5 linked regions of the Homo sapiens genome follow. The protein of the gene in region 3 purifies or fractionates together with the protein of the main gene of each other region. This does not show direct contact. Each region holds a gene or a part of one and is shown on either strand. Other genes may lie near its edges.

Evidence for each region.
Region 1: the proteins of KIF23 (region 3) and G3BP1 purify together in Homo sapiens (affinity purification with mass spectrometry; 2 studies listed by BioGRID). This does not show direct contact.
Region 2: the proteins of KIF23 (region 3) and BAG2 purify together in Homo sapiens (affinity purification with mass spectrometry; 2 studies listed by BioGRID). This does not show direct contact.
Region 4: the proteins of KIF23 (region 3) and LIG3 purify together in Homo sapiens (affinity purification with mass spectrometry; 2 studies listed by BioGRID, with this or other methods). This does not show direct contact.
Region 5: the proteins of KIF23 (region 3) and SUPT16H purify together in Homo sapiens (affinity purification with mass spectrometry; 2 studies listed by BioGRID, with this or other methods). This does not show direct contact.

What each region holds. Positions count from the first base shown.
Region 1 is NC_000005.10:151,791,541-151,797,378, reverse strand, and holds part of G3BP1 (ras GTPase-activating protein-binding protein 1), read right to left. Parts: intron 3,221-5,838; coding exon 3,130-3,220; intron 1,901-3,129; coding exon 1,804-1,900; intron 153-1,803; coding exon 1-152. UniProt on the Homo sapiens protein: Protein involved in various processes, such as stress granule formation and innate immunity. Plays an essential role in stress granule formation.
Region 2 is NC_000006.12:57,180,997-57,186,834, reverse strand, and holds part of BAG2 (BAG family molecular chaperone regulator 2), read right to left. Parts: intron 4,804-5,838; coding exon 4,694-4,803; intron 3,058-4,693; coding exon 2,645-3,057; 3' UTR 1-2,644. UniProt on the Homo sapiens protein: Co-chaperone for HSP70 and HSC70 chaperone proteins. Acts as a nucleotide-exchange factor (NEF) promoting the release of ADP from the HSP70 and HSC70 proteins thereby triggering client/substrate protein release.
Region 3 is NC_000015.10:69,419,380-69,425,217, forward strand, and holds part of KIF23 (kinesin-like protein KIF23), read left to right. Parts: intron 1-2,267; coding exon 2,268-2,373; intron 2,374-2,612; coding exon 2,613-2,749; intron 2,750-2,946; coding exon 2,947-3,056; intron 3,057-3,779; coding exon 3,780-3,950; intron 3,951-5,838.
Region 4 is NC_000017.11:34,985,588-34,991,425, reverse strand, and holds part of LIG3 (DNA ligase 3 isoform alpha precursor), read right to left. Parts: intron 5,439-5,838; coding exon 5,295-5,438; intron 1,961-5,294; coding exon 1,763-1,960; intron 464-1,762; coding exon 312-463; intron 1-311. UniProt on the Homo sapiens protein: Isoform 3 functions as a heterodimer with DNA-repair protein XRCC1 in the nucleus and can correct defective DNA strand-break repair and sister chromatid exchange following treatment with ionizing radiation and alkylating agents.
Region 5 is NC_000014.9:21,358,412-21,364,249, forward strand, and holds part of SUPT16H (FACT complex subunit SPT16), read right to left. Parts: intron 5,093-5,838; coding exon 5,027-5,092; intron 4,918-5,026; coding exon 4,822-4,917; intron 4,739-4,821; coding exon 4,623-4,738; intron 4,537-4,622; coding exon 4,383-4,536; intron 3,914-4,382; coding exon 3,786-3,913; intron 2,803-3,785; coding exon 2,667-2,802; intron 2,562-2,666; coding exon 2,435-2,561; intron 2,123-2,434; coding exon 2,004-2,122; intron 1,199-2,003; coding exon 1,073-1,198; intron 17-1,072; coding exon 1-16. UniProt on the Homo sapiens protein: Component of the FACT complex, a general chromatin factor that acts to reorganize nucleosomes. The FACT complex is involved in multiple processes that require DNA as a template such as mRNA elongation, DNA replication and DNA repair.

The sequences.
Region 1 (5,838 bases), on a different chromosome or scaffold from region 3:
AACTCTTCTGAGCATCCTCAGGGGCAGTTTCTTCTAATACTGGCTCAGGCTTTTCCTCTTGGATTTCAGATACAGGTTCTTGTTCTGGTTCTGGTTCAGGATCAGGCTCTGGTTCAGCAACAGGCTCCTCTAAATGTTCTTCCATGTCATTACTTTGACAGGAAAATTTGAGAAATATCATTCTGCCACCATTTATTTCACAAAAAATTCCTCCATCATTTATTAATCAGAAACCAGAACACAGAGTTAGCTCCTTCTATCCAAAACAAAAATCTAAGAATTGTATATCTATCTGAGTTTTTAAAAAGTAATTTTTAAAATGCCACTCAATAACTTAACTGGAATCCATTTGTTTGGCAAATTCTGATAAGCAAATGAATCAGGACATCAAAATGAACCAAACCACTTTATGGCTGGAATCCCACAACTATTACAATTCATTTAGCATACAACATCAGAAAAACTCTCAAAATAGGCTGGGGCGGGGGGGGCGGGAAAGAAAGTTGCCATTCAATGGGTATAGTCTGTTTATAAGGTATATAAAGTTATCTTCAATAAAAGTTGTAAGGTGAAAAGTCCTAGATATCTGTCATAGAACCACATCTATACAGTTAACACTACTGTACTTTACACTTAAAAATGGTTAAGATGAAAAAAAGGTTAAGATGGCAAATTTTATGATATGTGGCTTTTAACACAAACACACAAAAACTCTTTCAAGCACATAAGGAATTTGGGGGAGAAAATAGTTATGATTCAGAATACAATTCTTAAAATTCCACATAAATCAACCAGAAATGCTGTTAAAACTGCAGAGGGGGCTGGGCACACACCTGTAATCCCAGCACTTTGCGAGGCCAAGGTGGGCAGATCACCTGAGATTAGGAGTTCCAGACCAGCCTGGCCAATATGGCGAAACCCCATCTCTACAAAAACACAAAACTTAGCCGGGCATGGTGGCGTGCGCCTGTAGTCCCAGCTACTCAGGAGGCTGAGGCAGGGGGATTGCTTGAATCCAGGAAGCGGAGGTTGCAGTCAGCCAAGATCGCGCCACTGCACTCCAGCCTGGGTAACAGAGCAAGACTCTGTCTCAATAGAACAAAAACAAACAAAACTGCAGATGTTTTGCCTCCTGAAAGTCTAATTCGGTAGGTTTGCAGTGGGACCATGAATCTTCATTTTCAACCAGCAACCCAAGTGAGTAACCTGATTAGTTCATCACACCTTAAGAAACACTTGAAAACACCCTTCAGGCACTGAATATTAACATTCAGTATCACATGGTAACAAGTAAATATGGATTTCTATTGCTATCAAACACATTTCTGTTCTAATCACAAGGGGGAAAAAACCCAAAGGTATAATGATGCACTTACTAACGTAATGAAATTCTTTATTGCTACTTAACTCACATATTGGTATTTATATCAATTTATGCCCGATCTCTAATTAAATAGGTCTCTGTCCACTTCATATTCCCTCAAAGCATTTAATACCTCAATACATTCAACTCTTGATAAACAATATGCAAGTTTTCACTTAACACCAAGAAAAAACTAAACCAAAAAGAAACTGATACTATTTAAACTAAGCAATAGTAGATTGCCTTCATAGTACAATTTACTATTAACAAACAAGTTACATATTTTTGTTTAGTCAAAATTACCAGAAACAAAACCATTCTTCTGAGAAATTATTATTTTGAGGTAATTCTCAGAATATGTAAATGCCCTCCAACAAAGGGAAAGACTAGACAATGCAAGTTCTTATGCAGCCCCGGACATGTGAACAAAATCTTCTTACCTGACAACTGCCTGATCATAGAAAGTTCCAGAATCATCAGGTACCACCTCAGGTGTTTGCTGTCTTTCTTCAGGTTCCTCTACTTCTTCTTCAGACTCTAAGTGAGAAAAAGATATTTAAAGTAATTTGTACTTACTGAATTCACATATACATTAACTTTCGCAATGTTCACAAAACAACAGTGAAGAAAAACATATATAAATAAACAAAGTAGGACAATTTGGTAAAATCATGGCACTGACTTTAAGGACAGAACTAAGGCTTTGAAGAACAGACTTTTTTTTGTTTTTTGTTTTTTGAGACGGAGTCTCGCTCTCTCGCCCAGGCTAGAGAGTGCAGTGGCGCGATCTCGGCTCATTGAAAGCCCCACCTCCTGGGTTCACGCCATTCTCCTGCCTCAGTCTCCCGAATAGCTAGGACTAAGGCGCCTGCCACCACGCCTGGCTAATTTTTTGTATTTTTAGTAGAGATGGGGTTTCACCATGTTAGCCAGGATGGCCTCGATCTCCTGACCTCGTGATCTGCCCGCCTGGGCCTCCCAAAGTGCTGGAATTACAGGCGTGAGCCACCGCGCCCAGCCTTAAGGATAGACTTTAAGGCTACTGTAGTGTCTTGGTTTTTAAGAGCATGGAGCCTAATGCAGGCTCTGTCACCTTACTGGCTACGTGACATTAGCCAAATTATATTAGGCAGTTATCTAATGCAGGCTCTACCACTTTACTAGGCAAATGATTGCTTATCTGTAAAACTGTATTACAAAATAAATATACTCTCAGCCATATAAACAACACTCAATTCTACTATTTTGGAGAAAATTTTCCATAAGTCTCTGTGTCTACACATCTTCCATGCCTACCCTTTCTTCTAGACTGTCTTTCAAGAACATTTATATAGCAAACAGCTTTGAAAGAGTATCTCCCTCCAGCACAAAGAGTAGTCATGTTTACTGCCTGTTGTAATAGATCTGGGTTCCCTAAACTCAGTGTCCCATGCCTTTAACACAACCCACTGCAGTAGAAGTATCACCTAGCCTTCTCCATGACATCCTATTGGTAAATGTGGCAAAAATACTACTACTGTCGCTGTGAGTTAGCCTGTCTCCTTCTGACCTAAGAGTCTTATGTCTTCTACTAACATCCATGATATAAGCTAACCTGTTAGCAGCTTCAAGTAGGGTAAAACCTCAGACTCTTCATATACCATAATTAGTTATTAATGAAGAACAGAGTGTAATGAAAACAGTAAAGAAACCCATAGTCTCTTAAGGGCAATCGGATGCCATTAAAAAAAATTTAGACAAGTAATTTAAAGTATTTCACTACTTACCCTCCTGAGGCTCAGTGACAAACCCACCAAAGACCTCATCTTGGTATCTGAAGATATCATTGTGAACATAGAATTTATTTGCAACAGACCCCTGCAATGCCAACAGAAAGTTTTAATTTATTCAACAGACTTTTAGAAAGTCAAATCACTCTACACCATTGGTGACTGGGACAAGTCTGCCTCCATGAGACATCTGGCAATATCTGGAGACATTTCAGTTTTTGTTGTTGTGGGGTTCTGAGACAGGGTCTTGCTGTCAGCCAGGTGGGAATGCAGTGAGCCACCACAGCTCACTGCAGCCTTGACATTCCAGGCTCAAGCAATCCTCCTGCCTCAGCCTCCTAAGTAGCTAGAACTACAGGGGCGCGCCACCATGCAAGGCTAATTTCTCTTTTTTCTTTTTTTTTTTTTTTTTTTTGAGTAGAGACGGGATCTTGTTATATTGCCCGGATTGGTCTTTAATTCCTGGGCTCAAGTGGTCCTCCCGCCTCAGCATCCCAAAGTTCTGAATTATGGGTATGAGCCAGCATGCCCTGCTGACATTTCAGTATTCACTACATGGAATGCTACTGACAACTTATAAGGTTAGGGATGCTGCTAAATTCCTACAATGCACAGGACAGGCTCCCACAACAAAGAATTAGTTAATCCAAAATGTCAACAGTGCCAAGACTGAAAATGCCCACTCTACAATAGCCGGTAAAAAGACTACACTCACATACATTTTGTTTGCTCAGAACACTTTACCTCACCACAAGATAAATATCCAAAAACTGACAAAGCCCTAAGCATGTAAATGCCACAGCCCACACCTCAAAACATTATAAGGCAATCATATCCCGGATGGGCACAGTGGCTCATGCCTGCAATCCCAGCACTTTGGGAGGCCGAGGCAGGCAGATCACCTAAGGTCAGGAGTTCAAGACCAGCCTGGCCAATATGGTGAAACCCCATCTCTACTAAAAATACAAAAATGAGACAGGCATAATGGCCCACACCTGTAGTCCCAGCTGCTAGGGAGGCTGAGGCGGGAGGATTGCTTGAACCCGGGAGGTGGAGGGTGCAGTAAGCCCAGACTGCACCTCTGCACTCCAGCCTGGGCGACAGAGTAAGACCTTGTCTCAAAAAAAAAGGCAATCATATTCCTAACTTCAGCAGATATTTAAAATTCCCCAAGTCTGTCTCCAAAAATATTGATATAAACACTCAAGGGTAGTGCAGCCTGAAAAAGATTGCTCGCAGTAGGTATAAGACACACCTGAGTGCAGATCCAATTATATATTATGAGTTATTCAGTTTCTAAGGCTGTTACTCCTCTGTAAAAAGAAAGGTACCAGCTAGGCACAGTGGCTCACTCCTGAAATCCCAACACTTTGGAGAGCTGAGGTAGGAGAACTGCTTAAGCCCAGGAGTTTGAGACTAGCCTGGGCAACAGTGAGTTTTTTGTAGAGTGAGTCTCCACAAAAGCAGAAACAAAAATCAGCCAGGAATGGTGGCCTGCACTTGTGGTCCCAGCTACTTAGGAGGCTCAGGTGGGATTATCATTTCAGCCCAGGCAGTCAAGGCTGCAGTAAGTCATGATCCTACCACTGCACTCCAGCCTGGGTAACACAGGGAGACTCTTCTCTCAAAAAACAAAAAAGAAAGATATCAACATATACCTCAATACTCTCTGTATTAAATGAGACAGTTTATATAATAGTGTATTATACTAAGAAGTTAGATACTTCCTTTAAAAGAAAAAAACTGTAATTAAACCTGTAATTCACAATCATACTCCATGTGATTCTTTGCATATTTAGAAGTCTACCACATCTTTACATTTTAATCTAAGCCTTCCTCTAAAAATTATGACTATAATTGGCTTCATGTAATTTTGCACAGACAAAAAGTTATCTCATATTCAAAGGTTAAAAGATTTTAGGCGTTTCAGGTTTGCTATCCTAAAAAGAAAACTTAAGATTAATGCTAGAGAAAACAATGATTTAATCAACAATTTCTTACTATGCCATTTCTATATACATGCTTAAGCAGACAGGATTCCTAACCTTGTTCAGTCTAGACCAATCCGGAAGAAAACACAAATGCAATCATTCAACATAAACTTGTCGTCCTTTCATAAGTATAACTAAAAAGAACCAGGCCTCCTTGAAGGAACAGCTGATTCAAGAATAGGGACTGGGCCAGGAACAGTGCAAGATGAACCTGGAAAATATTTTGCCATAAGTGTTCAAGAAAGATAAAAAGATAGAGAATCTCCCATCCTTCATTTACAAATCAAAAAGAGAAAAAATAAGGCTGGGCATGGTGGCTCACACCTGTAATCCCACTTTCGGAGGCTGAGGCAGGCAGATCACTTGAGGTCAGGAGTTAGAGACCAGCCTGACGAATATGGTGAAACCCCATCACTACTAAAAATACTAAAATCAGCCGAGTACGGTAGCACACGCCTATAGTCCCAGCTACTCGGGAGGCTGAGTCAGGAGGACAGCCTGAAACCAGGAGGCGGAGGTTGCAGTGGGCAGAGATGGAGCCACTGCACTCCAGCCTGGACGATACAGTGAGACTCCGTCTCAAAAAAAAAGAGAGAGAGAGAAAAGATATTTAACTTTACAGTGGCAAAACCTAACTAATCAAAATTCATATCACAACTAAATGACATAATATGCCTAATGTGAAGCACTGAATGACACCCATAAAGCATCCTAC
Region 2 (5,838 bases), on a different chromosome or scaffold from region 3:
AGGAATGGCAGGAGGGCTACCCTAAAATTATGTATTATATGCTAGGAATGGTAGAGAATTGAGATACAGCAAAACATACTCTATATCCACTTATAGTCTATATAAAAGACAATAGTTTAAATGAGGGTAAAAATGTGACTCAGGAGATTCATCATCATTTGAAAATAAATTATACTCCCATTCTTATAAATAAAAATACATGTTAAGAACCAACCCATTGGCCAAGCGTGGTGGCTCATGCCTGTAATCCCTGTACTTTGGGAGGCCAAGGCAGGCAGATCACAAGGTCAGGAGTTTGAGACCAGCCTGGCCAATATGGTGAAACCCCATGTCTACTAAAAATACAAAAATTTAGCCGGGCGTGGTGGTGGGCGCCTGTAGTCCCAACTACTAGGGAGGCTGAGGCAGGAGAATCGCTTGAACCCGGGAGGTGGAGGTTGCAGTGAGCTGAGATCACACCACTGCACTCCAGCCTGGGCAACAGAGCAAGACTCCATCTCAGAAAAGAAAAAATGAAACCTCATGAAGTAAATGAAACTATAGAAACTGCCTCCATAGCATATATTCAACACCAAACGTCTACAAAATGTTTGTTCTCTTCCCTTCACAGTCTCTTTTCCCTAACTCATATACTCCATAGTGTTCCTTGCTACAGTGGATATGTCTTCTACTTGTCAGACAGCCTGGGTGACAGAGCAAGACTCCAAAACAAAAAACAAAAAAACAAAAAACCACACTGGAGATTCCCTGCCCTTTAGATGTGGCTCTAGGTACAGAATGCTGGAGACACTGTAAACCAGGGACCCCAAGCAGCTTGGAAATGTGGATCATAGCTCTTCAAGTCTGTGATCAGAAATCAATGACCTCCATTAAAAACTCCATTGCAAAAAAATGGGAAAAATAATGCTAAGAATACCAAGGTCAAGGAGGCAGAGCCAGAATAATTTGTGTAGAAAAAGTCCTGGACTGATGTGGAAGCCATGGGAAGCAGGGAGCAGTAGTATTTCCCAGAGTGGAAGGGATTTACGGATGCTGACAATACTTGAGAACCTGAAGAAAACATGACTATCCATTTCTTAATTTTCAAAAAGCTGGTCAAGAAAAAAATGATGCACACAAAAAATCATCTCACAGTCTGATGACAGCAAATCAGTCTGCTAACAAACCAAGTGGCTCTGCCATAGATAGAATTAATGTTTCCCATGAAATGCAAAGATTTAAATAAGGCAGAGTTGGAGCTGGCAAAGGAAGTAACATGAATGTCTTCAGATTGTAACTGCTTTTTATAAAGAGACTAACTTGGCATTTTTGTAGAGAAAATGAAGTTTGATATTGCTTGCATTGAGAGATATATACATACATAAAGTCAGTTTGGATCTTGATTTGGTTTTTCAGTGTGAAGAATACCTACATTCAAATAAAAATTGATGTGTTCATTTCAAAATAGTATCCAGGGAAGTTGTTGTGGTTTTTGTATATCAATAGGACTAGTTACTTTGAACAAATAAGTGTTCTCTAGTTGCTTCACACTTTATCAGATAAAAGAAGAATCAACACACTGGTCAACCTTTTTAGTAAACAAAATGCAAACTAGGTATTAATGCTCAGTGCTGGAAATATTTCAGTGAAATAGCTATATTTTAATTACTGAAAAAAGTATAAATTGCTGTAACCTTTATACAAAAAAAGTTTAATATGTGTGAGGCCATGAAAACGTCTATATCCTTTGACCCAATATAATTCACTGCTGGGCCTTTATACAGAGAAAAACAAAAATGAAAGAAGGAAAAAGTCCTGTGTACAAAAATATGTTGCAGTAATAGCAACAAGTTGGAAACAACCTAAATGTCCATAAAAGAGGAATGGATAAAGATATAACTACACAAAATAGAGCTCATTAAGTTGACAATTAAGCAGACTTTATATCAGCATCTAACTTTTTTAAAAAAAGGCAAGTTACAATATAGGAATTTTAGAGAATTGATGCATTTGAGAAAAGATGAAGCAGATAGATATATAATTGTTCACAGTGGTAAATTATAGGTGGTTTTCTCACATTTTATGTCAGTTTCTTGTATATCAAAAAATACATTCATATTATGAGACACAGGAATCTTTACATCCAAAATAATTTGATACAGATGCCTTAACATTGCTGAATGAGACAACTTTGGAAAGATTCTTGTTTTGTGATTCCTTTTTACCCTCTAAGCACAGTGCTTTGTTAACACTGTGTGTGTAGTAAATGTGTGTGCTGCTTAAGGTAAAGAATTTCTAGTAAACTAAATGCCCAAGGTGACTGCGTGATTCCATGCCAGACAGGAAAAAGCAGTCATGCTTTTTGCCCCTAGCTGAACGTTTGTTTTCCCCACAAACTATGTATTCATCCACAGAATAGTGAAATATGCTAGATCCTAGTACAAGACAAGAATTCAATCTAAAAAATCTCTAGATAGATAATTAAAATATTGCTAGTTTTGTTATTCACAAAACTGAAGATACTTGATGGAATATTTTCCTCATCTGAAACAACTATCAGTGTCAACTAAGTGGTTATACCTAACAAAGAACTAGTTATCAATTAAAATAGTATTTTATCATTTTTACACCTTGTGTATTGTGTAAATGCTCTTAGGTTTGAAGACTAATTGAATCTGCTTTCAGCATTTTGTTGCAGAGTTTTGGAACCAGCTCCTTTAGAATGCTCTAATAGCTTGATGGCCTTGTCAGAGTTTTCAATATTTCTAAGCAGAGTCTCTAATCTTCTCTTAATTTTCTTCTGATCTTCAAGAGCACAGCCAATTACTATGGATTGAAACTTCTGATCAACTGGCCCATGTGGCACCTCAGATGAACATGCACTGTAGAGCGACATTAAATGACTCTTGGCATTTCCCAAATCATCCAGAAACTTATTGACCACCTCATCAATAATCCTTGTGGCATGCTTTAGGGATTCTTGCTGCTGGGGGTTTCTAATTGTTTCTACTGACACTTCAACGGTGAGAGTTCTTCCCATCAAACGGTTTGCAGTCAGATTTAATTCTTCTCTTTCTCCTAAAAATCAATATGAGATGTAAACTTATCTGTGTCAAAAACATTAAGGCATTTGTTTGTGACTAAATTTATTATTTTCTTTACCTCTGCCATGAAATTTTTTTAGAGATAAAAGCTGAAACTATAGCATGTAAGATTAACTGATGAAATGTATTAGATTACAGAAAGAGGTTGTAGAATACCACTTCCTGACAATCTGCATATATGGGATACCAGATGACTTCTCAAATTGGCATGTCTGCAAAAGTTTGGGTAGGTATGCATTTGTAACTGGGATGGAGATCAAGTCTTAACACTGTGAGCAGTAAGCACATATAGGGTTTATGCTGGGTAGAGCTCCAGAGATCAGATGTCCCAGATCTCTCCAGAACGACATGTGCATTTATCAGAATACAATGCCCCAAATTTTGGTTGAGAAAATGTAGCCACGATAGAAGATAAGCTGTCTTCTGTCGTCAATACTAGGCACTGACTTCATCCTTCTCCAGATAGAAGCAGGACAGTGGTCTAAAGTCTTGGCCAGCACGAGGAGCTCTATCAACATTTCATTATTTATATGAGAAAGTCAGCAAGCTCCTGCTTCTGTAACTTCCTAATTCATTGATCTTTGGGCAGGATAGCGTAGAGACTAGATCATGGCCTACCTATAGATGTGTAACAGTTTTGATCTGGATTTAGGTTGCTTACTTACCTCACCAGCCACTTGGCCCAGTACCATGTGGCCTGTGTGGCACCAAAGGAGCCCAAGTAGGAAGTCCAGTGCCAATAAAAGAAAATCAGAAGTGACCTATTCCTATTTCATGTTCTTCACATGAAAATGACAGCACAGGTTAGGCAGATGTCACATGCCTGTAATCCCAGCACTTTGGGAGGCTGAGGCAGGCGGATCACCTGAGGTCAGGAGTTTGAGACCAGCTTGGCCAACATGGTGAAACCCTGTCTTTACTAAAAATATAAAAATTAGCCAGGCGTGGTGGCACGTGCCTGTAATCCCAGCTACTCGGGAGGCTGAGGCAGGAGAATCGCTTCAACCCAGGAGGCAGAGGTTGCAGTGAGCCAAGATCGCGCCATTGCACTCCAGCCTGGGTGACGAGTAAAACTCCATCTCAAAAAAAGAAAAAAGAAAATGACAGCACATTTTTACATTCATGCCTTTTATTGGTCCTACAAGTTTCCTCATTTTCTCTGCATTTTGTCCCTTCTCTTTATGTTGTACCTCAATTCATCTTTTTTTTTTTTTTTTTTTTGGTCTCTACTTCTCTGCTTCCACTCTCTCACCCTCTTCCTCTGCTTTTTTAATCTCTTGCAGTCCAGTAACTTGTGAGGAACTGAAGTTAGGACTGTGAACCTGGGATAAAACACATGGCCTTACTGCTTGGGGCCAGCTTTTCTGAGCTTGCAGGCTTTTTCCTATCTCTCCTAGCCAGGGGCTTGGGGTAGAGAGCATGCTGGAAGAAATCTCTGAGTAAGTGGCTGCTGTAATGAACTGACAGCTGCAGCTGCTCTCTGTGGCTCACATTAAATGCTGTGGCCTGGTGTACGCATACCAAAAGTCAAGCAAAAATTGACCCACACTTATCATAAACTCTTTAAAGGAGTGTAAAAGATGAGCCCCTTCTGTGGAGATGGCTCTCACCGTCACTGATCTGCCTCATGTCCTGGCTATTTTGGATACTGTGGATCATTTCCAGAAGGATTTCTTTCTCTTGCTCAACAGCAGTTGCTGCTTCTCTCAAAGCTTCAACCCTATAGAAATTGGGAAAACAAAACGGTTATTGTATGCAGGATGTTCTTCCTATTAATTTTCTTTATCTCTCATTCAACCCAAATCAAGTTTAAAGATCACCAAACTTTTCAAAAATTCTTCATTTCTGCTTTAAAATTCTTTCATTTTTCTATACACTTGCCTTTCTCCCATTTTCCTCCCAGCTCATAAGGCAATCATTCTTTCGTGTTTATCTAATTAATACTATTTGTTTTTTACAAGATCTGTATTATTTGTATATTTTGAATTTATATCTCATTCTGTTTTTATTTTTTCACTTAGCATCCAGGTTGCTAGATTTTTGTTTGTTTTTTGTTTTTGAGACAGTCTTGCTTTGTCACCCAGGTTGGAGCACAGTGGCACAATCTCACCGCAGCCTCCACCTCCCGCTTTCAAGTGATTCTCGTGCCTCAGCCTCCAGGCCCGGCTAATTTCTGTAGTTTTAGTAGAGACGGGGTTTCACCATGTTGGCCAGGCTGGTCTCAAACTCCTGGGGTTTCACCATGTTGGCCAGGCTGGTCTCAAACTGCTGGCCTCAAGTGATCTGCCCACCGCAGCCTCCCAAAGTGCTGGGATTACAGGTGTGAGCCACCACACCCAGCCCCCTATGTGTACTTCTAATCAGTTGCTGCTAATTGCTGTATAATACTCCATGTGTATACCTACCTGATTTTCCCTCTCCACTCTCCCAGAGATGGACACTTAGGTTGTCTACCAGCTTCTCATTACTACAAATAACACTTCTATGAATACATCTCCCCTTTGGACCTTGGTGAGGATTTCCTTAGGACATATACCAGGACAGAACTGCTAAGACAAAGGGTATGTGTACTCTGCTTTTGACTTAGTATTATGACTATTCTGCAGAACACCTGTACCTATCCACTCTCCACAGCAAAGCACAGGGGTCCCCATATCCCTACCAACATTCTGCATTTTCCAACTTTCTATTTGCTGCCAGTGTGACAGAAATACACTGATATGTCAGTGTTAACTTGTGTTTTCCTAATAATTTC
Region 3 (5,838 bases):
TGCTTCATCCGTCTCCCATCTGTCTCTCCACCTTCATTCATCTTTTAGTATTCATCCAATCCTTTGAGTTTCTTGGATAAGGCAGAATCCTGGCTGTTAGCTGTTGCCTTAACCTGGACTTCTCTTTTTCTGGGTCTTAGCATGGGTCATCGTTGGGTTTCAGCTTAAATATCACCTCCTCGGGTTGTATAGACTACCCAATCAGAAACAGCACCCCACAACCCCTCTCCCCTGGTCTGTACTCTGTATGCCTCCTTTACATTACTTAACCACAATCTATTTGTTTACTTGTTTATTGTCTTTCCTCTACCATAATGTAAACTTCCAGGGAATATGTACCTTATATGTTCTGTTCATCAAATAGTAAATATGGCTTCAGCAAGAATGAATGGTCTGGGAGGGTTTTTTGGAGGAGCAGGTCTTTAAGGATATAATATAGTTAAACACTGATTTACTGAGTTTTACTTCTTTAAGTAAATTTCAAGTATGTATAAATATAGGTATCGAGTAGGTATCGAGTAGGTATAAAAAGGTTTGATGGGGATTAAAAATAGTCACTGCTTTCTGACAGAAGGCAACATTGTATAATGAAAAGAGCATTGCTGCCGGGCATGATGGTTTACATGTGTAATCCCAGCACTTTGGGAGGCCGAGGCAGAGGGATTACTTGAGATCAGGAGTTCGAGACTAGCTTGGCCAACATGGCGAAACCCCATCACTACTAAAAATACAAAAATTACCCAGCGTGGAGGCATGCGCCTGTAATCACAGCTACTCGGGAGGCTGAGGCAGGAGTATTGCTTGAACCCAGGAGGCAGAGGTTGCAGTGAGCCGAGATCCTACCACTGCACTCCAGCCTGGGTGACAGAGTGAGACTCTGTTTCAAAAAAAAAAAGAAGAAAACAAAAACATTGCACTGATGATGGCTTTGATACTAATTAACTCCATGGGCTCAGAGAAGTTTCACCTTCGGGCCTCAGTTTTCTTTACCTTGAAAGGAGGGAGTCATTCATGAGGACTGTGAGGTCATCTATCTTCTCAGTATTAGCCTATGTGTATCCTTTCAGTTCCAAGATTCTTTGTTCTTTTTGAACTCTAAAGCTGATTTTTACAGGATATTTTATTAATTGTATTTAGAGAGCCTTGATAATTGAAGTATTCTTGCTTTCTTAAAGGTCACAATTTATTTAAAATGTATTTCATGTAAGAACTCAGAGATGAGATAATATTTACAGTTTACTTCTGGTTTTAAACTATAGTACATCAAAACGTGGTATTATGCTGCTATGCCATTTTATTTTATATGTCTTTTTTCTTTTTCTTTTTTGAGACAGGGTCTCACTTGTTGCCCAGGCTGGTGTGCAATGGTGTGACCACAGCTCACTGTTTTTTGGTGAGGTTTTTTTGTTGTTTTTACTTTTAAAATTTTTTATTAGATGAGCTTGCCCAGGCTGGTCTCTTAACTCATGGCCTCAAGTGATCCTCCTGCCTCAGCCTTCCAAAGTGGGATTATAAGTGTGAGCCACTATGCCCATGCTTTGCTATTTTAAATGACACCTTTATAAAGAAAAACTAGGAAACAGTAAAGTTGTGTATGACATAATGCTTGTAGATTTCCACAAATCTGTGACTATGAATCGTTACAATACCTTTTGATCTCTGTCACTTAATTAAAACAAAATCAGCCTTAGATTAGAAGCATTAGTAGACTTAAGACTTTTCTACATTTTTGGCCAGGTGTGGTGGCTCACGCCTGTAATCCCAGCACTTTGGAAGGCTGAGGTGGGTGGATCACCTAAGATCAGGAGTTTGACACCAGCCTAACATGGTGAAACCCGTCTCTACTAAAAATATAAAAATTAGCCAGGTGTGGTGGCACGTGCCTGTAATTCCAGCTACTTGGGAGGCTGAGGCAGGGGAATCGCTTGAACCCAGGAGGCAGAGGTTGCAGTGAGCCGAGATTGTGTCATTGCACTCCAGCCTGGGCAACAAGAGCAAAACTCTGTCTCAAAAAAAAAGAGTTTTCTACATTTTCTTTAGTAGTTGTGACTGAAAACGTTTACCAGTTTATAATTGGTATGATATAGGTATGTCATGACTTTTTAGTAACTAAATAACTAAGGGTTCCAACTGTAAAAAGACCATTTATATTTTTTCTTTGCATGCTTAGATCTTAAATGTCATAAACACCTTAAGTTTAAGGAGATGTATTTTTAGCCTAGATAATAGTGGAATTCTATTTAGTGCATTTTTTTCTCTCTCCACAGACTCAGTATTCATTTAAACAAGTATTTGGCACTCACACCACCCAGAAGGAACTCTTTGATGTTGTGGCTAATCCCTTGGTCAATGACCTCATTCATGGCAAAAATGGTATGATATGACTCTTGGAGTTTTGTTAGATTTTCCTTTTTCTCCTCTTCTGATAAAACTTTTTTGATATTTATATATTTGATTTATGTTTGGTGTTGAATCCATATTTAATTTGTTAGGGTGGTGCTAAACTTGCCTTTTTTGAGCTGGCTAATTGTTAGTGTTTTCTAATGCAGTGAAGAAATACTCTAAGTGGAGAACTTCTAAGATATAACTCATTGTGACTTGCTACACTGTAGGTCTTCTTTTTACATATGGTGTGACGGGAAGTGGAAAAACTCACACAATGACTGGTTCTCCAGGGGAAGGAGGGCTGCTTCCTCGTTGTTTGGACATGATCTTTAACAGTATAGGGTCATTTCAAGCTAAACGATATGTAAGTATGATTCTTTTGTGTTGTGACTATCTTACTGGACTAAGACACCTATGGATACAGTAGTAGTAAAGAAGAACCAAAGCACTGGATTCATTTTGAAACCTTAACTGTTCCTTAGTTTTTAAACATATTTCTTACTATTTAAGTTAAATTCTAAAAAACGTGGTGTGATTTTTTTTTTTTTGCCCCCACTTCAGGTTTTCAAATCTAATGATAGGAATAGTATGGATATACAGTGTGAGGTTGATGCCTTATTAGAACGTCAGAAAAGAGAAGCTATGCCCAATCCAAAGACTTCTTCTAGCAAGTAAGTAATTATATTTGTCTGCAGCACTGGCCTAGGGGCACAGGATTCTTTCCTGTGGTTTGCCCAGACATGAGGAATGGTGAACATTAAATAGAGAAGTTGACTTTTGTGAGATTAAAGTTAAGGAATGTTCTTAAGTTCTTTGCTCAGATGTTTTCTCTTTGGCTTTGAGCACATTTTGTTTCAATCACTGTTTTAAGAGGGTGCCACTCTGGATGGGGAGAGGGTATAAAAGCCATTGTTGTGTGTTCGGGAGGACGTGGGAATACTGTTGGCAAACCATGAGTATGAATAAAGCTGCTTTGTGCATTTCTGCTTGTAATTGCAGATATTTATTTTATCTGTTAGTTTCCCCTTGGGATCAGTTACTTTTTTTTTTTTTTGAGACAGAGTCTCACTTTGCTGCCCAGGGTGGAGTGCAGTGGCATGATCTCGGCTCACTGCAACCTCTGCCTTCCAGGTTCAAACGATCCTCCTGCCTCAGCCCCCCTAGTAGCTGGGATTAGAGGCACACGCCACCATGCCCGGCTAATTTGTATTTTTAGTAGAGACGGGGTTTCACCATGTTGGCCAGGCTGGTCTTGAGTTCCTGATCTCAGGTGATCCGCCTGCCTCGGCCTCCCAAAGTGCTGGGATTATAGCTGTGAGCCACCATGCCCGGCTGGGATCATTTACTTTTAAAATGGACTTATAACGTATACAATTGAACTTTTCTTTTTTTAGACGACAAGTAGATCCAGAGTTTGCAGATATGATAACTGTACAAGAATTCTGCAAAGCAGAAGAGGTTGATGAAGATAGTGTCTATGGTGTATTTGTCTCTTATATTGAAATATATAATAATTACATATATGATCTATTGGAAGAGGTGCCGTTTGATCCCATAAAACCCAAGTAAGTAATAAAGAGAGCCCCTTCTTAGCTGTTAATGTTGGGGAAGTTACTTTGCCTCAAGGAGTTTTAGTTTCTTCAGTTATGAAAGAGAATAATGCTTGCATTTGTTTTCAGAATGAAATGATATAATTTGTATATCACGTGGTTTTGTGTTTGAGTATGTTTATTATTAACTAGATATGTACCTGTATTAGGGAACTAGTGGGTTAAAGCATCTAAGGAGAAGAGGGACCCAAATATTCATCTTGGAGATTACTTTTGAAAACTCTGGGCCCTGGGCTATGTTTTGAGAAGGATCTTAATTATATAATTAAGAACGTTTCAAGAACCTGAGACAGTAAAAGGAGTTTTGTAGGCTCTTTAACCACCCGTGTCTTGGTGATTTCTACAGACTGGAGCCTAAAGCTGTTATCTATACAAGTAATACTTACATATCTTCTATCATTCATTAATATGGTATGATATCTGCACTGTAATTCCATCAGAGTTGAAATACTACTTCCTAGATTTCCTTGGGTCTTGCCTTTCTGAGACGTAAGACTGGTTACCACTTGGCATCACAAATGATAAATCTGCATTTGTGCCAGAGTTGACCCTGGGATCTTATGTTTAATATTAGTATCTTGTTCCTGAGTTGATGGTTTTGTTTTTCAGCTAAAGGCTTGTCTTTAATGCTGTCTTTATTAGGGCCTCTCAGGACATAAATAATACGAAGACCTGTGGCTTATATTTAACTTTGTATATCTAAGGGAACATTATTGGAGAAACAGCTGGATTTAGAAAATCATTAGACTGAGAATACATACCAGTATATCCACTTTTAATTACATGAAGAATTTATGGACTCTGGTTGAGGCCATACTTGATACAAGCATTTCTGTGGTTCTTAGTGAGTCACATTTTGATACAGTTATCTTCACCAGAGTCCTTGAATTTTCATCACGTTTATTGGGAAAACAATTACAATATGGCTAAGTAAGCTAAATGTAAAAATATTAACACTCTTAATACTAAGAGTTTATGCCAAGGAAGACTCTTTGGCTCTGTTTAACATTTCTTCAAGTGAGAACTTTACAAAGGGACTTATTTCTGGAGTGACCTATCTATATTTACCCTTGGAATGTTGGTAATAGTAAAAATACTTGGGTTAGGTTGTGGAGCAATACATGGAAGAGTTAAAACCTTGTGAGACAGTTACTTTTTATTTATTTTTGAGACAGGGTCTTGCTCTGCCATGTCAGCTCACTGCAGCCAACCTCCTGGGTTCAGGTGATCCTCCCGCCTTAGCCTCCTAAGTAGCTGGAACTACAAGCACAAGCCACCATGCCTGGCTAATTTTCTAATTTCTTGTAGAGATAGGAGTGATAGGGGTCTCACTAGGTTGCCCAGGTTGGTCTCGAACTCCTGGCCTCAAGCAGTCCTCCCACCTTGGTCTCCCAAAGTGCTGGGATTACAAGTGTGAGCCACCATGCCTGGCCTGACCATCACTTTTTATATCAAACTAATTACTTTCCCATTTGTTTTAAAGTGTCAACTGTCTTGACTCTAATCTTGAGTATACCCATTTTCATGTATGCTCGTGTGCCAACTTTTTGTTTGGTTTGTTCTAAATGAGATTATTTTCAAAGGATCATATCTTGGCTTTATTTAGTTATACAAAAGAAGATTGACAAAAGTACCTTGTGTGCTTTGTAACCTTTCTGGGTAACTCCTTAAATGAACATACAAGGGTGCTTGTTTGGCCCTGAATTCAGATTTAATTTGTTAGGTTGGTGTTAGACCTGCTTTTTTAAGCTAGTTAACTTTTAGTACTTTTAATACAATGAAAAACTATTACAAGTGGAGGGTTTTTAAGATATGACTCATTGTGATTGTCACATAGTCTGGA
Region 4 (5,838 bases), on a different chromosome or scaffold from region 3:
AAACAAGCAAGAAAAAAAGAGTCCAGAATAAAAGCCCCAGGAGAGACAGAGGGGGCAAGTCTCAAATTCTGCCTTTTGAGAACCAGGCCTTTGTGGTTCAGCAGTTGTATGGTTTCCACCCTCAGAAACTTAAGAAATTAAGAGCTATAGCCTCACATTCAGCTCCCCCTATAACGGAAGCTTGCTCAAATGGGTTTCAGTTTCCTAAAACAGTATGTGTCCCAACCAGAAAAAAAAAAAGAGGCTGCAGGTGCCTGGCTTGGCAAAACCCCACCTGGAATGTAGCCTACCCTCCCTCCCGTTCCTCTGACCTGCTCTAGGTCCCGTGCCATATCATCTGGGTTGCAGTTAAAAATGCGACTGAAAAGCTTCACAATCTGCTTATCGTTCAAGTTGTAAACAGTCTTAATGACTCCTGGCAGCAGCAGCTTCACTGTTAGGTACACATCACCGTGGAAACCATCTGGAGACAGAAGGAACCCTTCTTGAGAAATAGAGCTTAAACAAATAAATATATAAACTCAAAGAAGGCTGGGCAAGGTGGCTCACACCTGTAATCTCAGCACTTTGGGAGGCCGAAGCAGGAGAATTGCTTAAGCTCACAAGTTTGAGACCACCCTGGCAACAAAGAAAGACCCCATCTCTACAAAAAATTAAAAAATTAGCTGGACATGGTGGCATATGCCTATGGTTCCAGCTACTTGCAGGAGAAGACAGGAGGGTTGCTTTAGCTCAGGAGGTCGAGGCTATAGTGAGCTGTGATCACACCACTGTACTCCAGCCTGGGCGACAGAGCAAGACACTGTCTCACACACACACACAAAAATAAATAAAAAAATAAACTCAGACCGCGCATGGTGGCTCACGCCTGTGATCCCAGCACTTTAGCAGGTTGAGGTAGGCAGATTAATTGAATCCAGGAGTTTGAGACCAACCTGGGCAAAACAGCAAAACCCCGTCTCTACAAAAAATACAAAAATTAGCCAGGCATAGCGGCACATGCCTATAGTCCCAGCTACTTGGGAGGCTGAGGCAGAAGGACTGCTTGAGCCCAGGAGGCGGAGGTTGCAGTGAGCTGAGATTGCACCCATGCGCTCCAGCCTGGGCAACACAGCCACATTTTTTGTCTCAATAAATAAACAAACAAACAAACTCAAAGAAGCAGAGACCAAAAGATATCTATATATCGCTGCCCATGCTCCTATAGTACCCTGTGCATATCGCTATAGTAGGAGACAGCATGGAGTTCAGAGGCTGGTGGATTGTGTCTGCCTCACCTTTAGCCTACAGATGAACTCTTGTTGGACAGAGTGGTTAGTTTCACTTCACGTGCCCAGTGACAAGGACATCAGAGATGCTCATCGACAATTTGTTAGATAAATGAAAGAAACAGAGTTGGAAGATTCTATTCCAAACTGTGTATATGGTTCACAAAAACCTAATTAAATATGTAGGACAGTAAATTTTCTAACTAGTCAAATAGGATGGGTTCTTCTGGCCTCCTAGGAGCAGAATAAGGGGAGAGGAAGACAGATGCCAAAGTGCTCTGAGAAAAACTGGCTACATAATTTGTGGAGTACAGTGCAAAATGCAAATGCGAGGCCCCTTGTTCAAAATTATTAAGAATTTCCAGATAGCACTACAGTACAGCATTAAACCAAGCATGGGATCCCGGGCAACTATACAGCTCACATGCCCAGGAAGGCAGCCATGGCCTTGAGCTCTCCGGAGGAAAGGCCTATTCAGGATGCTCATGCCACACCTCCTGCTGAGCCTTTCCGAAGGAAGTCCTGGATGATCTGGGTCTTCGTGTTGTAGCTAGGATTATCGGCCACCATGGCGCATAACTTTCGAAACTCCCGTAGCAGACAGTCCTTATGCCTGGGGTCACATTTGCTTGAAGACAGACTTCTCTTAGGGGTGGGGCTCGAGGGGGCTTCCCCAGAGTTGTTGGGCTTGGCTGTTGGAGAAACAACAGAGATGAATTCATTCTGCCTTTCTGAGAAGAAAGAAAGGGAAGGAAGGAAACTAACAGATATTCTGCTGGTATTTAGCTTTATTTAATCTCCCCGAATAGACTTTTGGGGTAGATGTCATTATATCCATCTTACAGATAAAGAAATGGAGGCCAAGTAATTTTCCCAAATCTTACAGCTAATAAATAATGTTAAAGGAACAATGGCCTCCTTAGACCCAAGCAAAAGACCAGACTGATGTGCATCTCTTTATGTGAGCACTTTACTGAAGAATAAAGACCAAAGTCATGCCAAGAATGATCAGGACTGGCTGGGCACAGTGGCTCACGCCTGTAACCCTAACACTATGCGAGGCCAACGCGGGAGGACTGCTTGAGCCCAGGAGTTCGAGACCAGCCTGGGCAACATAGTAAGATCCTGCCTCAAAAAAAAAAAGTGGTCAGAAGGATCTCAGAGCAATTGTAAAGCTGATCCCAGAAAAGCTGGCATGAGAAAGGGGTAAGAAATCAAGTACGTGTTAGACAATGTGAAATTACTGCTATCACAGGTTGTCAGAGCTGGAAGAAGCCTTAAAGATTATCTAGTTCAATGTTCTCTTACTGATAAGGGGACTGAGGTCTGAGAAGAGCAAATGACTTCCTGGCCCACTTCCTTGTTGAAAGAGCCAGGACAAAGACACTACTAAGAAAGTCAGATTCCATTAGTACACTCAACATCCCTACCCCTCGCTGCTTCAACTTTTCTTTTCTTATTGTCAAAATAAAACCCTGCTCCCCAAGGAGCAGTTATAAAAAAAAAATAATACATTTTTACAAAAGGTGGTCAAGGGGCAGGGATTTCCTCCAGACACTTAAAAATAATTATGTGCAACTCATCGGTGATTCCCTTTCACCTCCTTGTGACCATTTAAAAAGCAAATTTTATTCGGCAAACTTGTGGCAGAGCCATTACTAAGCTAACTGCTGTTGTACACTGTTTCTTGTCTGGGCTTTGTAAATTATAAATCCATCCTCATCTCTGATCCGGAATCTAAATATGATTTTAGGGGACAAAATCTCCAAAGTGTCAATGTTCAACCAGGTTGCAAGAACTAAAACACTCTCTTTCTCTCAACTCCTCCCAAATTCCATCCCCAACACCGGAGCCCTTCCAGAAACATGCTGTCCTTATCATCACCTGGACTCTTCTCTATCTTTGGCCTACCAGCAAACAACAAACCAACCAACCTCAGAATTTTTTTTTTTTTTTTTTTTTTTTTTGAGACAGAGTCTCGCTGTCGCCCAGGCTGGAGTGCAGTGGCGCGATCTTGGCTCACTGCAGGCTCTGCCCCCAGGGTTCATGCCATTCTCCTGCCTCAGCCTCCTGAGTAGCTGGGACTACAGGTGCCTGCCACCACGCCCGGCTAATTTTTTTATTTTTAGTAGAGACAGGGTTTCACTGTGTTAGCCAGGATGGTCTCGATCTCCTGACCTCGTGATCCGCCCGCCTCGGCCTCCCAAAGTGCTGGGATTACAAGTGTGAGCCACCGCGCCCGGCCCAGAATTTTTAAATAATAAAAATCCTATAGAGCCAGGCACCGTTTTTGCAATGTTATCTCTTACAGTCCTCATGAGAACACTATGGGGTAGATGAGGCATGGAGATATGATGAAGCTTAAACAAATAAATACACAAACTCACTGAAGCAGAGGGGAAAGTAATCTATATATTGCTGCCTGTGCTCCTATAGCACCCTGTGCATAGCACTATGGTAGGAGAGGCCACTGCTGCTTCATAGACAGAGGCTAAAGAGAGGTAAGGACGTGCTCAGGGATCTGAGCTGTCAAGGACCAGAACCCAAGTCTTCTGACCTCAGGTCTAGGCTTCTTTCAATCACATAAAATGTCTTTCAATCTCCAAATGACTTCTAAAATAAGGCCAAGTGGTTTGGCTTTATTTATTTTCTTCAGCTGAGTCAATCACAAGAATGTCTCCAAACAATAAAAGCAGCAACACAGTGTAGTATAAAAGAGCACAAGTACTGAAGTCAGACTTCAGTACAAATACTAACTCCATGATAACCCTGAACGTCAACTTTCTCAGTCATAAAAAGGGCCTAATAAAAAGTACTTCCTAAATAAAAGTACTGTCTAGGGTTAACTGAAGAAGAAATGAAACTACATATATAAAAGCCCCTAGTCCAATGCTGTCTGTTTACGTAAGGCCAATAAATGATCCTGATCTTCTCAACTCCTATCTATACCACATGCCCCAGCAAAGTCTTCCTGAATCCCTGTCTATGAAATAGTAATTCTATATTTTATATAAAAGAAACTATATATGTGTGTATACACGTGTGTGCATGTGTGTATTTTAGTGAAGAGAACAGGAAACTTAACACTTTATTGTTCATCTGTCCTACAAATAATAGCCACAGTCCTCCCCTTTAGGAGATGGGATTTGAACCCAGAGCTCACTGATTCCAAAGTCTGCAAGCTTCATCCCTAGGCTGTACTGCCTCCCAACAAATAGCAATATCCTTCAGATCTTTTTTTCCTTCCTTTGTGTTCCATGAAGTTCCAGTGTTTTGAATAAACAGTTTTAAGAATCAAGAAGGGAGATCCATGCATGACATCTCCCTTCTTTCATACTTTCATTTCTAGGCATATTCAGGGAAACAATTTCTCAAAATTCTTTCATTATCAAAACACAAGGAAGTAAAAGACAGGTTCTAATAATCTCTGTCTGGCCCAGGTAACTATTTCAAGGGGAAAAAGTCTTGACAAAACAAATCTTTCCGCTGCGATAGAGGTTAAAGTATACAAAGAAATGCTATACAAGTGGAATGCTGGCCGAGCGCAGTGGCTCACGCCTGCAATCCCAGCACTTTGGGAAGCTGGGGCAGGTGGATCACCTGAGGTCAGGAGTTTGAGACCAGCCTGGCCAACGTGGCGAAACCCCATCTCTACTAAAAATACAAAAATTAGTCAGGCATGGTGGCAGGTGCCTGTAATCCCAGCTACTTGGGAGGCTGAGGTGGGAGAATCGCTTGAACCCAGGAGGCGGAGGTTGCAGTGAGCTGAGAATGCACCACTGCACTCCAGCTTGGATGACAGAGCAAGATTTCATCTCAAAAAAACCCCCAAAACCAAAAAACAAACAAACAAACAAAAACCAAGCGGAAGGCTTAGAATTAGCCATTACCAGTCTCTGCTCAGACAGAAGCAAATTATTAATGAGATGAGATAGCACAGAATTTTCACTCTTTAGCCAGAATCCTAGGTAGAATACAAAATAAAAGCAGCACTATAACAGCTAAAGTAGCCCTAACCTATCTTACCTGAAAAGCCAGAAAATTTCCGGGGATTGGTACTGGTGACAAATGAGGCGCCTTTCACTGGAGAAGTCACCTGGCCAGTGGTTGTCAACTTAGCCTGGACAACAGCTTTCTTCTTTGGTGTACCTGCTGCCTTAGAAGACAGATCTGTAGGATCCCAAAAGAGTATAAAATATCCTTCAGTGAACGATCTCTGAAAAAAACATCCAAAGAATCTATCAACTGCTCCTAGGGCCTTGCTTGTTAAGTCACTACCCTAGCACTAGCCCAAGGCTGGCTGGTGGCTGGTATTTTTTGAGTGGGGGTAGTAGGTAATAGGGTATTGTGGGGACAGAAGGGAAGGATATGCTGGAGACAAAAGATCCAGTTACCATTTATCTCTATTAGTACCTTAAATTTTCATCAACATTCTCCACTTCTTATCCCATATGTAAGTCTCCAGAAATAACAATTTGGGGGAAATCAGAAATCATAGTTTGATGGATAAAACTTAGGGAACCCCCAACCCCACAGAATTAGCTTCAATTTAGAGATGAACAAAAAGTAA
Region 5 (5,838 bases), on a different chromosome or scaffold from region 3:
TCATTTCTCGTTCCATCTGTAGAAGAAAAAAATATCAAATACAGCCATCACATTTGTTAACAGTACCTCCCCTCAAAAAGTCTGAAGTGCTTTTGTGCTTTAAAATAAAAATTCCAACTTTTAAGTTCAGGAGTGCATGGGCAGGATTTGCAGGTTTGTTACACAGGTAAACGTGTGCCATGGTGGTTTGCTGCACAGATCATCCCTGAAGTGCTTTCGTTGCCCTTCATTCTCTCGTAACTATAAAACTAACATGTACATACACCTTTAATATTTAAGGTCACCATGCCATTACCTGTCAAGCTGAGTCTGCAACCTAAGCCTAAACTCTTGTAATACCCTATCTCAGCAGATACTTGAGTTGCTCTGCACAAACAGATTCAGGGTTGTTTATTTATTTATTTATTTATTTTTGGAGATGGAGTCTTGCTAGTCGCCCAGGCTGGAGTGCGGTGGCGCGATCTTGGCCCACAACCTCTGCCTCCCAGGTTCATGCCATTCTCCCGCCTCAGCCTCCCGAGTAGCTGGGACTACAGGAGCCCGCCACTACACCCGGCTAATTTTTTTGTATTTTTAGTAGAGACAGCGTTTCACTGTGTTAGCCAGGATGGTCTTGATCTCCTGACCTCGTGATCTGCCTGTGTTGGCCTCCCAAAGTGCTGGGATTATAGGCGTGAGCCACTGCACCTGGCTATTTATTTATTGAGATGGAGTCTCACTCTGTCGCCCAGGCTGGAGTGCAGTGGCGCTATCTCAGCTCACTGCAACCTCTGCCTCTTGGGTTCAAGTGATTATCCTGCCTTAGCCTCCCGACTAGCTGGGACTACCACCACCCACCACGCCCAGCTAATTTATGTATTTTTAGTACAGACAGGGTTTCACCACATTGGCCAGGCTGGTCTCGAACTCCTGACCCTCAGGTGATCTGCCCATGTTGGCCTCCCAAAGTGCTGGGATTACAGGCGCGAGTCACCACGCCAGCCCAGTTTGTTTATAAAATACAATCCCTGAGCTTGGATTTGGCCTCATCCTCCCTCACTATCCTGCAAATACAATACTAAATTTCACAAACCTGCTCAGCATAGAGGTCATCTCGGTCATGCATATGCTGATGTTTCCCCAAGTCCGTGGTTATCTCTCCCACTTCTGTGTAGAACTGCACATCCGTGTGCCGCTTCTTCCCAAACATGATGGCATTCTGTCGGCATAAAACAGAAAGAACACAGAAGTCAGAAACACAAAGGTATCTGTGATGGAAATGGCAGTGATCCAAACTTGGGCCTCCACAGCATGCATGCAAAAATAATTAAACCACCCCTGGTGTCATCATAAATAATGATGCTTGGGAATGGAAACAGTGTACATTTGAAAAAGTGCTGTGCTCCTACTTATTACAGGAACTTTGGAAATCATGTTGGTAACAAATCTTATCTAAAGCAAAACTTCATTTTAGAAAGAGAAATCTGGAGATCTCGTATAAAACATTTGCTGGCCACCATATAACACACCAAAGGAACAAACATGCTTATGAGCCCCTTCTAGATGCCAGGCCTTGTGGCCTTTAGAGGCATTATTTTATTTAATCCTCTTAAATGTTCTTAAGTGAGAGGTGATTTTTTCATCACTTTTTTGTTTTTTGTTTTTCACACGCTGTCGCCCAGGCTGGAGTACAATGGCGCGATCTCGGCTCACTGCAACTTCCGCCTCCCAGGTTCAAGCAATTTTCCTGCCTCGGCCTCTCAAGTAGCTGGGATTACAGGCGCTGGCCACTACGCCTGGCTAATTTTTGTATTTTTAGTAGAGACGGGGTTTCATCATGTTGGTCAGGCTGGTGTCGAACTCCCGACCTCAGGTGATCCACCCACCTCGGCCTCCCAAAGTGCTGGGATTGTGGGCATGAGCCACCGCGCCCAGCCCTTTCATCACTATTTTATAGGAAAGAAGCTGAGTGAAATGAAGTGTCTTGCCCAAGAGCTGACAGCTAGTTAAGTAGAAAGGTATACCTTGAGGTGAAAGTGCAAGACAATAATCATTTCTCCATCACAGGGCTGGAACAAAGCATGCTTAATATTATTGTACAAAATATCCACTTTGTCTCCTCGAACAGATGTGAAGCGGAAGCCTGGGGAAAAGAATGAAGAAATGTCAAGCAGTATAATTAAGTTAGGCCAAAAGGCACTGCAACTCTTCTGGCTGATTTGCACAGGGTCAGAGGAAACACCAACAGCTGTATAGAGCTTTCCTTTCCTTCTGGCCACACAGCAGTGTAAGTAGATTCCTCCCAGCATTTCCTTGTCATACTTTATTAGCACCATGCTTTAACCAACTGAGCTAACCGGCGGATGGCTCTTTGTCATATTTTATTATCTGATCTGTCATTCCTAACAAATGTGCCCTGAAGAGAAAGCCTAGGTACAGGAGAGATCATCCATACCATTGACATGGGCCTCCAGTGAGCCTTGCATCCTCTTTTGGGCAATATTTGGGCGAATGTATAGATCTTTCAGTTTCGGATTACTCCGGTTTAGATTGATCACCAGTGAGTCTTGTTTTACAATCCCCTAAGCAAGAAGAAAATTAATGTGAATTGTCACATATCCTTACAAGTCTCCAAAAAATACATGTCCTTCTTTGTGTAAGAATGTTTTGCCTGTGTTCAGGCTCACCTCCTTCTCTTTCTCTTCAGCTTCTCGAGTTTTATAACGTTTCTGTACTTCTTTAATAATTCGGAAAGCATTCTGAAGGTTCAAGGCTGGTACTGTCTGTTCTCCGGGTGCCTTAATATTTGATGCTCGGTATGTACTGCAGAAAAGCAACAGCATTTATAGACATTTCTTTTTCAGGCCAGGGAAATTGTACTGATTTACTTTATCTTCTAAGCAGCTTAATCTCTACTTTGCTTTTTTTTTTTTTTTTTTTTTTTGAGACAGGGTGTGCCTCTGTCACCCAGGCTGGAGTGCAGTGGCCCAATCTTAGCTCACTGCAACCTTCGCCTCCTGGGTTCAAGCCATCCTCCCACCTCAGCCTTCCAAGTACCTGGGATTACAGGTACACACCACCATGCCCGGCTAGTTTTTGTATTTTTAGCAGATACAGGGTTTTGCCATGTTGACCAGGCTGGTCTTGAACTCCTGGCCTCATGTAATCTGCCTGCCTCTGCCTCCCGAAGTGCTGGGATTACAGGCGTGAGCCACCATGCATGCCCATTCCTTCTTTTTTCATTTTTCAAATCTGGTATAACATCCCCAAATTATCCCATTTCACACCATGAAATCATAGAATCCAATGTGGCACCAGTTTTCTTATTTGAAGATTCTACTGCAATATATGTTTATTACTTTTAACACTTATTTTCATAATTATTTTTTTTTTGAGACAAGGTCTCGTTCTGTTGCTCAGGCTGGATGGAGTACAGGCAAGATCAGGGCTCACTGCAGCCTCAACCTCCCAGGCTCAAGGAATCCTCTCACCTCAGCCTCCACAGTAGCTGGATGACGGGTGCACACCACCACCCCTGGTTAATTATTTTTTAGAAGAGACAAGGTCTCACTATATTACCCAGGCTCAAAATATGTTTAGTAAATATATAGTATCTTCAAGAAGATTCTAAATTGGGATCCATCCTGAAAATAGTACAAAGTCAAGAAGGCGATCCGAAACAAGTACCAATGAGGAAGGCTTTGACATTTACTAGGTAGGGAAAATGTAGCACAGACAATGAAATGTTTCTGAGAGTACCACTCCAGACAAGATGAATCTGGGTATGACTTTTCTTGGGGACTCACATTTCCTTGACAAAAGTCGCTTCAGGGTTAGGAAAGATGTTGCCTTCATTCCTGCCCAGAGCACTGCCTGGGCAATAAAAGTTGATTCGCAAGTAAGTATAATCTCCTTCCACGGACATACTTATATTCTGTTCAAAGGAAAAGCATAAAAAGTAAACAGATTTCTTTCCTAGAGATTAGTAGTTACAGAGATGTTAAAATTAAGTTAGGAGTTACAAATTGACCGCTCTTAACCTTAATCTAAATCTAATAAATTTACATAATTTATCTTTTTAATAACGAAGTATCCTTTTCCCAAAAAAATCTCTGAATTCTCAAAGTACCTTGTACCATGAATACAACTAAAAGTTAAACAATGATTAAACGAAGTTGAAAGAAAGATAGGCAAATTATGTTTCTAGACTAGTTTAGCTTTCTACTAAGTGAAAAAAACTGAAAGAGGAAGGAGAATGACAAGACAAGAGGGATGTCAGTAACTGAACAGAGTCTGAAGGAGTCAAAAGTGGGAGACATGATGAATGCAGATTATTTATGGCAAATACAATTACTATTTTAAGCAACAGTTTGGATGAAACCTGATGCACTGAATGTCAGTACCTTGATTGTGGCAATGTGAAACGGTGTTGCAATGCCAAACACGGGCATTATTACAGTCTCATATTTCTTATCGATGTAGATCTTCATTTCCCGAATATGTGGTTCCTTAGGCATCAGAGATGGGTTTTTATAGGACACATTAGACTTGCGAGCTCTGGAGTGGGATAAAAAAACAACTGAGAAATTTCTGCAGTCCCACAGAACCCTCAGATGATCTCACTGCTCAGTGAAAACTCTTACTTCTGAATCTGCTGTTCTCCCTTTTGTTCAGTCAATCGCCTCTTTGCTTCTTCATTGAGTTGAGCCGCTAGTTCTTTCTGATGTGCTCTTCGCTTCTCTTCTGCAGTCATTTCATTCTGGTGAATGGAAAATCCAATTTATCACAACACGTGAGCCATATGACAGCCGAGATCAATGTAATTTAAAATAGTAAACTTACTCTTGTTCTTTCTGTAAGTAATGCTGCCCGAGAACCTCTTCCCAAAAGGTCCTCTGCCTCATCTTTCTCCTCCTCCTCTTCTTCCTCATCTTCATTCTATGGAAAAAGTCATAATCAAAAAATGAAATTTTAATTATTTTAGCCAATATTATTTAACTTCTTTATATCCTAAACTTCCTATACTACTTATCTATCTTCTTCCTACCTTTAGGAAAATCCCCACATTCTTCACTTTCTTCTTCACAGAAGTGAGAACAGTAGCTGGGCCATCCTAGAATTAAAAGGAGAATGAAGACACATTATTTAAAAGAGGCAATTTCATTTTCTAACCTAGTAAACGGCTGGGCAATGCTTTGAATCTTTTGGACACTAAAATGTTTGACAATGAATAAATATAGTTTTTATCCTTCTAACCTCTAACCTCTCGTCAGGAGCTACAATTTTTTTTCTTTTTCTTTTTTTTGAGACAGAGTTTCACTCTTGTCAACGAGGCTGGAGTGCAATGGCGTGACCTCAGCTCACTGCAACCTCCGCCTCCCGGATTCAAGTGATTCTCCTGCCTCAGCCTCCCGAGTAGCTGGAATTACAGACGCGCACCACCACACCTGGCTAATTTTTGTATTTTTAGTAGGGCCGGGGATTCACCATGTTGGTCAGGCTGGTCTCAAACTCCTGACCTCAGGTGATCCACCTGCCTTGGCCTCCGAAAGTGCTAGGATTACACGCGTGAGCCACTGCGCCCAGCCAAGAGCTACAATTTGGGAGGCAACATTGGGTAATCACTAATACAGGTTTGATTTGAAGCCTGGCTCAGTTGCTTTCTACCTCAGTGACATTTGGCAAGTTACTTAAACTTGTCTGTGCCTTCAATTTATCTGTAAATGGAGGTAATAAGAGTATCTACTTCACAAGGTACTATTTCAATGAATTAATGTAAACTGCTTAGCTTATGATAAAAACACTGAACTATCTGTGCTCACTATTATTAAAAATCAGTTCGCTGAGGGAAAGAAGCCA